2 separate regions of the Homo sapiens genome follow, and region 1 is linked to region 2. A link means that fine-mapping ties the variant in region 2 to the expression of a gene that starts in the linked region. Tissue or cell type: whole blood. Region 2 holds a variant in brackets; the other region holds the start of a gene. All regions are shown on one strand. Distances are from middle to middle.

Region 1 (5,318 bases), 51 kb after region 2:
GACAGGTCCGCCTGCCCCATAGGCCTCACCACTCGGCCTCAGTCTAATGAGTTCTTCACCTGCTTCCTCGGCTTATTCTTGTAGGAGACGGGACTTCTAAAAGCAGTGAATTAAAGAAAAGATGTGAAGAGCTGGAAGCCCAACTGAAAGTGAAAGAGAACGAAAATGCTGAGTTGTTGAAAGAACTGGAGCAGAAAAACGCGATGATCACAGTGCTGGAGAACACCATCAAGGAGCGAGAGAAGAAGTACCTGGAGGAGCTGAAGGCCAAGAGTCACAAGCTGACCCTGCTGTCTAGCGAGCTGGAGCAGCGGGCCAGCACCATCGCCTACCTGACCTCCCAGCTGCACGCCGCCAAGAAGAAGCTCATGAGCTCCAGCGGGACCTCAGATGCCAGCCCGTCAGGGAGCCCCGTGCTGGCCAGCTACAAGCCAGCGCCCCCCAAAGACAAGCTACCCGAAACGCCTCGCCGCCGCATGAAAAAGAGCCTCTCAGCCCCCTTGCACCCGGAATTTGAAGAGGTCTACAGATTCGGGGCAGAGAGCAGGAAACTCCTTTTGCGGGAACCAGTGGATGCTATGCCCGACCCCACCCCATTTCTGCTGGCTAGGGAGTCCGCCGAGGTCCACCTCATCAAAGAGAGGCCCCTCGTCATCCCCCCCATCGCCTCCGACCGAAGCGGCGAGCAGCACAGCCCGGCCCGCGAAAAGCCGCACAAGGCCCACGTCGGGGTGGCACATCGGATCCACCACGCCACCCCGCCGCAGGCCCAGCCCGAGGTGAAGACCCTGGCGGTCGACCAGGTGAACGGAGGCAAGGTGGTGAGGAAGCACTCAGGGACGGACAGAACTGTGTGAAGCCCGCCGTGCCCCACCCCGCGCTGTCCATGCACTGTGAGCACCACTGGGAAATCTCAGCCACACCTTTTCTGTTTAATCCCATGCATGCCAAACACTTTTCACACCTACCGACCCATTCTCCTTCTGCTTCTCTTGCCCTCTTCTTCACACCAAAATATGATCGTGTCCCTGCCGCAGAATATGTATTTCCTAATTGCTGTGGCCAAACGCCTGTGTGCCGAATCGCTTGCTTCTGATCCCGCTCCGTGTAACCTAAGTGCGCTGCAGGCAAAGCCCAGGCCACGGCTGCGTCACTACTGATGTTCACGATGCCACACAGTCACACACCTAATTCATTCTCAAGTCGGAGCAACACATACCAACCTTGACCTTATCCTCAAGCTCCAGGGCAGCCTGGCCGAGCAGCCCCTGCTCCCTCCTGGAGACCCTTGTCACCTCCCGAGCTCCTCCTGGAGACCCCTGTCACCTCCTGACCAACCTTTCCCAGGGCGGCACCGATCACCGAGCAGCCGTGCGTGTATCTCAAGGAACTAAATAAGATGACGCTACTCCTCATAGCACCACAACCTGAATGTGTGTTCATATTTTTTTGTTAGTTTTATCCAAAATGTTTAAGATCCCAACAAACTTTATTTTCTAAACCTGCCTTCCTTCTGTTTTGTGTCTTTTATTAAACAAACACCTGAAGGAGGGCTAGGAGACTGCAGGAGGGAGAGCAATCACAGGTCCCAGAAGCGACTCCGGCCTCCTCCCGGCCCAGAGCTAGTCCTTAGAATGTGCTGCGCTCCTGAGCTTCTGTGGGAAGCTGCTTTTGCCTCTGATGGCCCCTGCCCACTGTGCTGCCCGTGCTAGCCCCTCTCCTCCCTCATGGAGTGAAGCCACCCCTCACCTCCAGGTGGCCAGCCAGGGCTCCAGGCCAGCCTCATGGTGCACAGAGGGAAGGGGTGCCCAGTGACCACTGGTCCTGGAGGTTCTGTGTCCTTACCTGACCCCACACAGACCCAGGCAGGCTGGGGGTAGAAGCTCATGCAGGAACTAAACACTAAGCTCAACAACTTCACAGTCGCCGTAGCAGGTCAGAGCCAAAGAAGCTAGGGCCAGAGAGTTCTGGAAGGGGGAGAAGTGGCTCCAGGTGACTGGTCACTTCTGCTCTGTGCCCGACATCATCAGCCCTTCTTGCCAAAAAGGAGCATCTGCTGAAACAGACCTGGATCATCGAAAACACACCTTTGGAAATTACATTAGGATTCTCACTTGTGCCAATGCTATGTATGCCAGGCACTTTTGCCTAATCAAGTGTTTTCTCTGAGAAGGAAAAGAAAACTCCACACATCTTAAAATACTCTCCAATATTTACTTTTTGATTATATAAATTCCTTTTAAAAAGTAGTATTAAAAACAAAACCATTCAGGTTAATTTGTATGGAAAGAGATTTAAGTGGCTGATTTCAAATGAAAAATCAGTGTCAGTCCCCCTCCTGCCTCTTGAGAGGCCCCAAGAAATGACAGCAGACCCGATCACTCTGACAACCCCAGGCTCCGAATTCATTAAGCAGTTTTCTTCACCCAAAGGTTAATCAGAATTCAGGGTGAGGCATACTCCTTGCAGCACCCAGTGAGAAATGTGCCTCGTGGTAAAGAGATCAGCTTCAAAAACCAAGCCGACTCCCATGGCGTTCCTTCTCATGGAGGTGGTGTAGACGGGGGTCCGGAAAGTATTCTGCAAGGGAAAGGCAGGTGAGATGCCCCCACGGAGAGAGGGTGCAGAGGGATAAAGGCAGAGGTGCAGTGTAAGTCTTGACAGGCAGGGGCCCCTGTGCAAGACTGCACCTGAGAACACGCACAAGGCTGGGGCTGCTCAGGGCCACCCTCCGCCAGCTTCACGGGGACCTGGCTTCACACTGACACCCTGGTTAAAAGTGGGTCCTGGCCCAGGCAGAGCAGAAGACATCTGCTGTCCACACCAGCGGGAACCACTTTATGACTCAGGCAATGTCTGCAGCATTTTGCAAGAAGGGAGGGAGTCTCCCCTTGGTTAGTCTAGACCACAGGATCACAGCTTGAGCCTGACACCTCTGGAAGGACCGGCATCCACACACACATACAGCCGCGCCTTTTCCAGGAAGCAGCTATCCGTAGCTTTTATCACGGCTCCAAGACTCTCCCCAGCCCATAAAGCTTAGGCACCCCTGTTTTAAAAAGTAGGACTGTTGGAAACCACCTCAGCCATAACTACAGTCAGAAGAGGAAGGGCCCTGGTGTCAGAGAGGAGGGGCTGGGACCTTCACCTGCAGCTTGAGGCGATGGGCTTCAATGGGGATGATCTTCAGGATCGGCAGGTCCACAACCAGCACCTTGGGTTTGCTCTTGATAAGACATCCTTTTTCTATATCCCAGTCAGCACCTTCCAGGTACAGTCCTGAGACAAAGCATCCTAGGGACACAAGGCAGAGACTGGATACAACTGGAGCATGCACAGCCTGCCACGGAGTGGCTCTATCAGGCGCACACACAGCGACACACAGGCCACTGGCTGGCCTCCTCCCCAGCGCATTGGGGACAGCCCAGGCCCTTCTCCAGCATTTCTGTCCTGCCCACCTTCCCTCTGTGGAGGAGCAGCCCAGACAGGAGACCCTGTGGCCCTGCCCCATGGCCCAGAGAAATGGGTGTGGGGCGGTGGCCTCTCCCCCAGGAATCCTCATTCCTGGGGCATCAAGGCCCACGGACTTAGACCACCCTGGGCCCCCAGGCTAGAAAGATGCATGGTCCCAGAGTCAGAATGGGCACCATGGCAACCCCAGCTACCCTGTGAGCCGAAGTGGCTGGGGAGCAGGAAGTCGAAGCCTCACAGAGAAAGTGGTCTCCGGGGAGGAGGACCCAGCAGATGTGCAAAGAGAGGAACACACTCCTGTGGCCCCAGAGAGAGTGGTGGCCCGGACACCTGCCACCTCCCCTGCCACTGAGACCTGGAGAGTCCCTGCATCTTTACCGTAAGTCCCCAGTCCTTAAGCCATCTCAAAAGAGCTTTTGTTCCTTGCAGTTAAAAGAACTCTAAGACAACATGGACCCGGGGAAACAGCAGTTTCCAGCTCTCATTTGCACAGTCAGTAACCAATGTCTAAGGGACCTGAAGTTCTGGCATAATCAAAGAGTTCCAACCAAGTTAGTCCATGCTGCTCTGTGGCTCCCATGCCCCTGGCCCCGTCAGGGGTTACAAGAAAGCCACCTGATGGTTTTTGCAAGAGCTAATTCTGACCTAGGAGCCCACTTGCCATGAGCTAGCAGAGTGAACATGGTTCAGGTCTCCCCTGCCATAGACCCCAGGTCTCAACGGAGAAAGTGGAAGAGAAACTTCCGTATCCACCCTCAGAGGTGTTAAGACATGGGCAGTGCAGAGACACAGGAAATATTTGCAGCAGGCTGGCTTTCAAACATGGCCTGGCCCATTTAGGCCCACGCTATGCCTGTCCCTTTGAGTTGGAGGTGGTTCAGGGAGAGAAATCCTAAGTGAGAGGCTGTGGATCCCTAACGAGCTGACGGTACCTTGTCCCGCCCGCTCATTCACTTCATCTGCATCCTGGAACTTGGTCACTTGTGTGAACAAGGTGGAGCGGTCCAGTGGCCAGCCGTTCTTCCGGCAGGTGGCCTGCACCAGCGCCGTGAGGTAGGACTCAGGGATGTGCAGCCCCGAGAGCCACATCACGCTGGGCTCGCTCTCGGTCACCTGGAGAGAAGAGAGGACAAGTGCTGGGAGCCTGGGGCTGCCATCCAATGCCAGGTCAAAGCTGGCCTGGAAGTTTAGTTTATGATAAAAGACATATTTCACCTAAGTGGCAAAAGATGGCGTTGGCACAACTGGCCGCCTGTCTGAGAAAAACAATCTGGACTGCCACATTCCAGGTAGATCAAAGATTTAGATATAAAAATAAATAAAACCACAAAAGTACTGGGCCACATCTCCAATGAATGCTTTCATATCGTGGAGTAGGAAATACAAAGCCCAGGATAAAAAAGAAAAGCCTTGTAGGTTTGACTACGGAAAAATGTAAAGCTTTTCTGTGGAAAAAATACCGTAAGCAAAGTCAAGACTTATGACAAGCTTGGAGAAATACCTGCAACACTGGCAGACCAAGGGCTAATTTCTTTGATTTGCAAAGAGCTCTTAAACATCAATGAGAAAGATGGAGACCTCACTAAAAATGAAATCCAGATACAAAAGGACAATTCACAGAAAAACAAACACAAAATGTCTGTAAAGCATGCAAAATACGCTCAGACTCACCATAATTAAAGACATGCAAAACAATGAGATATTATTTTCACCTATCAGGGAGACAGTGATCCAAAATGTTAAGAACGCAGCATTGCAGCGGAGTGAGGAAAGAAGCACTCTCATAGACTGTGGTTTCAGCCTTTCTAAGAACCATCCAACAAGAGCTATCAAAATTTAAAATGCAC
Region 2 (5,378 bases):
TACAATTTCATGATGTCTGTGAATCACAGAGATCTAGACTGTATGCTCAACTGGAGTATTCTGGATTTCAGCAATGACCAAATAAAGATAAACAAATACCTGTCCTATATATGTTGCCTTCTTGAGTTGAGCCAAAGAAGGGAAAAAAAAATCTTTAAAAAAGAACAAATCCAAAGAGAAAACAAAGTAAAAAAATAGTTGTGCTGGGAACACAATGACACTCAGAATCAAGTCTGCACAGATCAATGTGAAACCATAATCCTCAGGTAAGAAGATTTTCAGGAACTCATATTTAAGGAAAAAGCTATTATTCAGACGTTGGGGAAAAAAAAAACACCAGAAATTTACAAAGCAACCGAGCTTTTAAAAAGTTTTGATAGCTCGGTGAGGATAGGAACAACAGAAGAAAAAGACAAAGGGTGGCATGAGATCTAGAATCCATGTAAGGCCTCCAAGATGGCAGAAGAAAATGGGACAACTGAAACAAAGTTTTAATAACCAATGGTTCACATGGAAAGAAGAAAATGAAGATCCCAGGGAACAAAAAGAGTTGGACAAAAATGTTTCTGACATCTTTAGAGTAAGGAAGGTGGTCCAAGATCTGGGGAATCCAATGCCAGATAAAGGCGAGAGGTCAGGAAGAGCGTGCACGGAGAGCTGCTTCCTCACTGAGCCCAAAGGGCACATGCTCAGAAAAAATTCTAGAGACAGCTTTGGCTTAAAATACTCAAGGGGGATTCTCCATCTAGGACAAATGGTGAAACAAGGGGAAAACTTACCACAGTGACAGGATCAAAACCCCCAAGACATTCCAGAAGAACAGGCAGAGGCAGGGCCCACAGTGGCTGAAGGACTACAAAGGCCTTAGGATCCTGCTGGATGGGAGAAATGCAAAGAGAAAAATGGGTTTATTTATAGAGAATTTAGGATCACAAAATGTTTTCATGAACTAGCTACTATAAACGTGGGGTCCCAGCTCAGAAGATAGGACAGACCTATTTACATCTGGGATTTATATAAATATATGGGATTCAAGGCATGGAGGTCCAAAGAAGGGATGAGCAAATCTGAGAAACCACAGAAAGGAAAATCCAGGCACTCTGCACAACTTCCCTCCAAGATATAGGTATCCCATTATCACAATTAGCCTCGTGATGGGAACCAGATCCAAAATGAGTTTAAGGTTCATAGGTATAAGATAACTGACTCAGACTGGCTAAAATGCCAGGGAATAAACAATCAATAGTGTTTTTTCACGGATTTTCCAGTCTCTCAGGGTACTGAAGAAGCACAAACTGGAGTCAGACTGGGTGAGTTCATGTCCTGGCCCTACTGCATACCTGCTGTGTAACCTTCACCTAGGAGGTTAAGAATGAGTTAATGGAGATAATAAAGGCAGCTGATCTGATAAGGTAATTTAAGGATTAAATCAATTAATCCATGAGAAGTACTTAAAACACTGCCTGGCAAATTTCAAGGGCTCAACAAAGCTATCATTATCATTATTTTATTTATTCCATCTACTACCTCCCCGCCTCTGCTATATTCTATAATTGTTCAGAGAAGTTTAGGTATAGATCTCAAGATCTAGCTTTAAGTTTGGGGAACTTCACTTTCCCCTGGGAGTTATGATATATTAAGGAACTTAGGTTCACACTGCTGCCGTATCTACATGTGGATGGGACATTTACATGTTTTTCTAGCTGTTGTCAATCTGGGGACAGTGCTGGATTACAGTATGCCTCTACAGCTCCCCAGAGCTTTGGGGGAAAGGATTATGTGAAAGGCATGTGGTTAGAATGATCCATCTTGCTAATAGCTATCTGAAGTTGCTATATCATTTTCAGCAGAAATCACTAACATTAGAAATAGAGTCCTGTAGACTATGCTGAGTGGCCCTGCACTGTCAGAGACTGAATAAAACAGGAAGAAAATGGAAAAGTGAAAATGCTTTCAACACATTTAGCTATTTTAGTTTCTCTGTGGGAATAAAGGTTCAACTTAGAATGAAAGCTGTTAGCAGGATAATATTTTAAAGGGCAGGAATACATTTGGAGGAATTTCAAGTGGTCTTGATATTGGGCCAGGTTTTTTCCTCCCTTACTGAACTATACATGCCAATCATGGTGCCTGCTAGCCTACAAATCCTACTAATGGGAACTGCTTCAGCTTTAAGGGTAGGCCCAGGCAGCCATCGGCCACATGACCACTTCTGAGACCAAGTGCAGACATCTGACCCAAGAGCTTAACTCTGACATATGATGTGGCTTGGAACAACAATAAAAGCAAAACAAAATCAGATTCCCTCTCTCTCAGGAATCTAAGCAATACTGAGAGAATGAGGTTATCAGCTGTGAGAGATGAAGCTGAGAGGTTATGATCCGCAAAATGACTGCGGAGGTCATCAAATCACAGCAAACCAAACTCATGAGGAAGTAGAATCTATAAGCAAGGAGGAGCTAAAAGGTTAGAAAAGACATACAGAGGAGGGAAAAACAAGCCAGATGGCAGCAAGAGGAGAAAGACACAAAGAAATGAGTGATGCCGTGAGAGACCTCACTGTCCATGGGAAGACTGTGGCTTGTCTCTGGACAGCCTGAGTTCCTCATGGGTCTGATCCACATGCATCCTCCAATATAGCCCCTTGTACAGAAAGTGGTCTGAATGAAACTCTGTTCTTTGCAACAAAAAATCCCTAACTAAAACACTTCCTTCAA[C/T]TCCCCCTTAAGATGAAGTTTTCCCAGGAGGTGCCTCAGTGCCACAAACAAACAGATTCTGGGCAAGCCCACCCCCTCCAGCCCCCCGCCAGACATGCCTAGACATACCCAATGTCCACTTCCCAGCAGAACTGGGATGTCTTATCTCTAGGTATATAGGCACAGTCCCTAAGGCTCATGAGCATCTCGAAGACCTATGTAAATGTTTCAGATCTGAAAAAAAACATTACTGGATGCAAAACATGAAAAGAAAATTGCAAAATTAAAGTTAATAAATGTTAAATGTCTATAGCCAATCAAAGCTTAACTCATATGGTTTTGTACAAGCTAATTTTATGTGGGACATGGGTGATTTAATGTTTGATATGACATAGTAAAGGCCTCCAAAAGTTTAATGGCTTAAGGCCTTCACAGATCTTCGCACCAGTCCCACAGCAGCGGACGTGTTTGGGCCTAAGCTGGAACCTGCCATTCCACCCCTTGGATAAGTGTATGCTTAAACTGTACGCCTGGCCGCTCAAACTGGGCACTCAGTCTAAAGTGAGAGGTCAAATCCCACCTCCCAGATTTAAACACAGTTATTTTACCACTTCTGATATTAGGAATCTGTTATCTTTTCTTAACGAAATATTTTAAATAAGTGAAGCCAAATAACTTCTATTAGCCATACTATTAGTTTTACCAAGAAGTTTTTTAAAATGTCATTTATGATAGCAAATGGTCTCATAGATTTAAAGGATTTAACATTTGACGTGTGTCAGAATAGTAAATCAAAAATCAGTCACATTTACTCTCTCCTGCAAGAACTCCCTCAAATGTCATGAATAGACCTAGACATTTTCTTCCTTCTGGTCAGATTCTCAATCTGAGAAGAGTAGGAAGTGGCACAAAAGTTACATGAAACTTAGATCTTATATTCTGAGATGATGGTGTTAAAAACAAAAAAGCAAAAATAATCCTTTCTAGAGTCATTGTTGATTACAGCTCTAATTTCATATGCACAGATAAGTGACATGTGTTCTCTGGAGCCATCCCCCGACTAAGACCAATTCACTCTTCTCACTTTCACTACTGAGCTCCTCCACAGCATCTATAATACCTTCTGTGTGCACCTCCCACACACCATTCTGTACCCCCACCCCCACTACAAAACTGCTCTCAGAGTCAAATCTTGGGGCCGTTCCTCCTGCCTCACCCTGAATCCTAGTCTACGGTCTCCTCGGCTCCCAGTTCCCTGCACATTCTCACTTTTCCTCTGGCCTTGCTGATTGTGTCTGCCATCTCACATGCCTATGCCTAAATATAGGAGTCCTCCATACAGTATGTCCTGTCTCCATTTTTTAGCTCAACTACCTGCTTGGCTGGAATGATGACCATTTCCATGATGATGATGCCACAGTTTCTTAACACAGTCTTTTCTTCTTACCTGTATCTCCAACTGCCTACTAGAATTATTTCCCCATCATCCCACGATAAACTGAAAATCACTACTTTGACAAACTCAAAGTCCCTATAAAAGGCAACTTCTTCCCTCAACAGATCTCCCAGGCAAAGAACTTTGAAACCAACTCTCTCCTCCTCCCCGGCCCCCACACCCCTTTCAACTGTTTTCTTTCTGTGCTTGTTTCTTCCCTTCAGCATTTAAACACAATGCAGAAGTCTCCCCCAACCTTAAGGAAAAACAGCATTTAATCCCAGGCCTTCTCTAGCTACCCTGTCTCCCTGGCCCCACCCTCCATTTCCCCATCCAGACCTCTTAAAGACTGATTTTTCCAGATTTCTATTGCTTCACTTCCCACTCATGCCTCAATCCAACACCACACCACCGAGGTTCCTCTCTCATTGTCGGCCTTCTCTTGGCCAATCCAAGGGCACTTTTTGTTCTTTATCCCACTGGACATTACTGGCCACACTCCCTTGGCTCCTTCTGTGACCCTACGGCCTCTGTGTTCTACACTCACTGCATAAACCCAGTATTATCAGTTGGCCGGGCAAGCTCTTGTAAACACTAGTTCATTCCCATGAGTTCCATCTCCCCTCTCCTCTGCTCCTAACATCCACACCAGTTTCAACCATCTCGCCCACTGGTTCTCAACTCTGGCTGTGAAAGAAAGCTTTGCTAGGAGTCCACATTTCAACTGTTCACAAGGCCTCCAGAGGGCACTCAAACACCTGCTCAGAAACCTCGGCTCTTCACACTAAGGAGTTAGGACTTGAAATCAATGTCACAATGGGTTACTACCTCTAGTTGCCAAGCATCATGAAAATGCATGCAACCCGCTTTGTGCAGGTTCTCTGATTCTAACTGTGAGTCTGGAGGCTTACCACAAGGTCCTAGTCCTATCACAATGTAAAGTTATAGTATTAAAAGTAATTTATTGAACATCGGTTAACTGAGAAACTTGACATGTTTTCTAGCCAACACCGAGTACTTTGAATCAATGAAATATTCTTAAACCCCCATCAGGCTCAATCCTAAACATATTTGAACTACACATCCAAAAGTGATATTTTGAAAGCCAGAGGGACATACAGGATTTACTCTGCAGAAGAAAAATGGTTCCAATTATTTCTATGAACTGTTGTATTGTTAACCTAAGTGGCAGAGTTCATCATCTTTGGGACAGGGGTCTGCTCTGGCTATAAAGGCTTCCTCACAAG

Evidence for each region.
Region 1: DNAH10OS starts here. The variant in region 2 is fine-mapped to the expression of DNAH10OS in whole blood (TOPMed, PIP above 0.99).

What each region holds. Positions count from the first base shown.
Region 1 is chr12:123,932,597-123,937,914 of GRCh38, reverse strand. DNAH10OS (dynein axonemal heavy chain 10 opposite strand) reads left to right here and starts at 2,931. Exons shown (of 2, transcript NR_187476.1): 1 at 2,931-3,850. DNAH10 (dynein axonemal heavy chain 10) reads right to left here. Exons shown (of 79, transcript NM_001372106.1): 77 at 4,404-4,584; 78 at 3,149-3,294; 79 at 2,201-2,580. The coding sequence ends at 2,434. It overlaps CCDC92 (coiled-coil domain containing 92), which reads left to right. Exons shown (of 5, transcript NM_025140.3): 5 at 85-2,289. The coding sequence ends at 857.
Region 2 is chr12:123,983,540-123,988,917 of GRCh38, reverse strand. All of the region lies in intron 2 of ZNF664-RFLNA (ZNF664-RFLNA readthrough), which reads right to left. It overlaps ZNF664 (zinc finger protein 664), which reads right to left. Exons shown (of 5, transcript NM_152437.3): 3 at 780-875. Among named protein-coding and RNA genes, the nearest start is that of ZNF664-RFLNA, 13 kb to the right of the region's middle. RefSeq lists an enhancer at 4,586-4,655 and a silencer at 4,846-4,905. The variant C/T (reference allele first, on the strand shown) is at 2,718.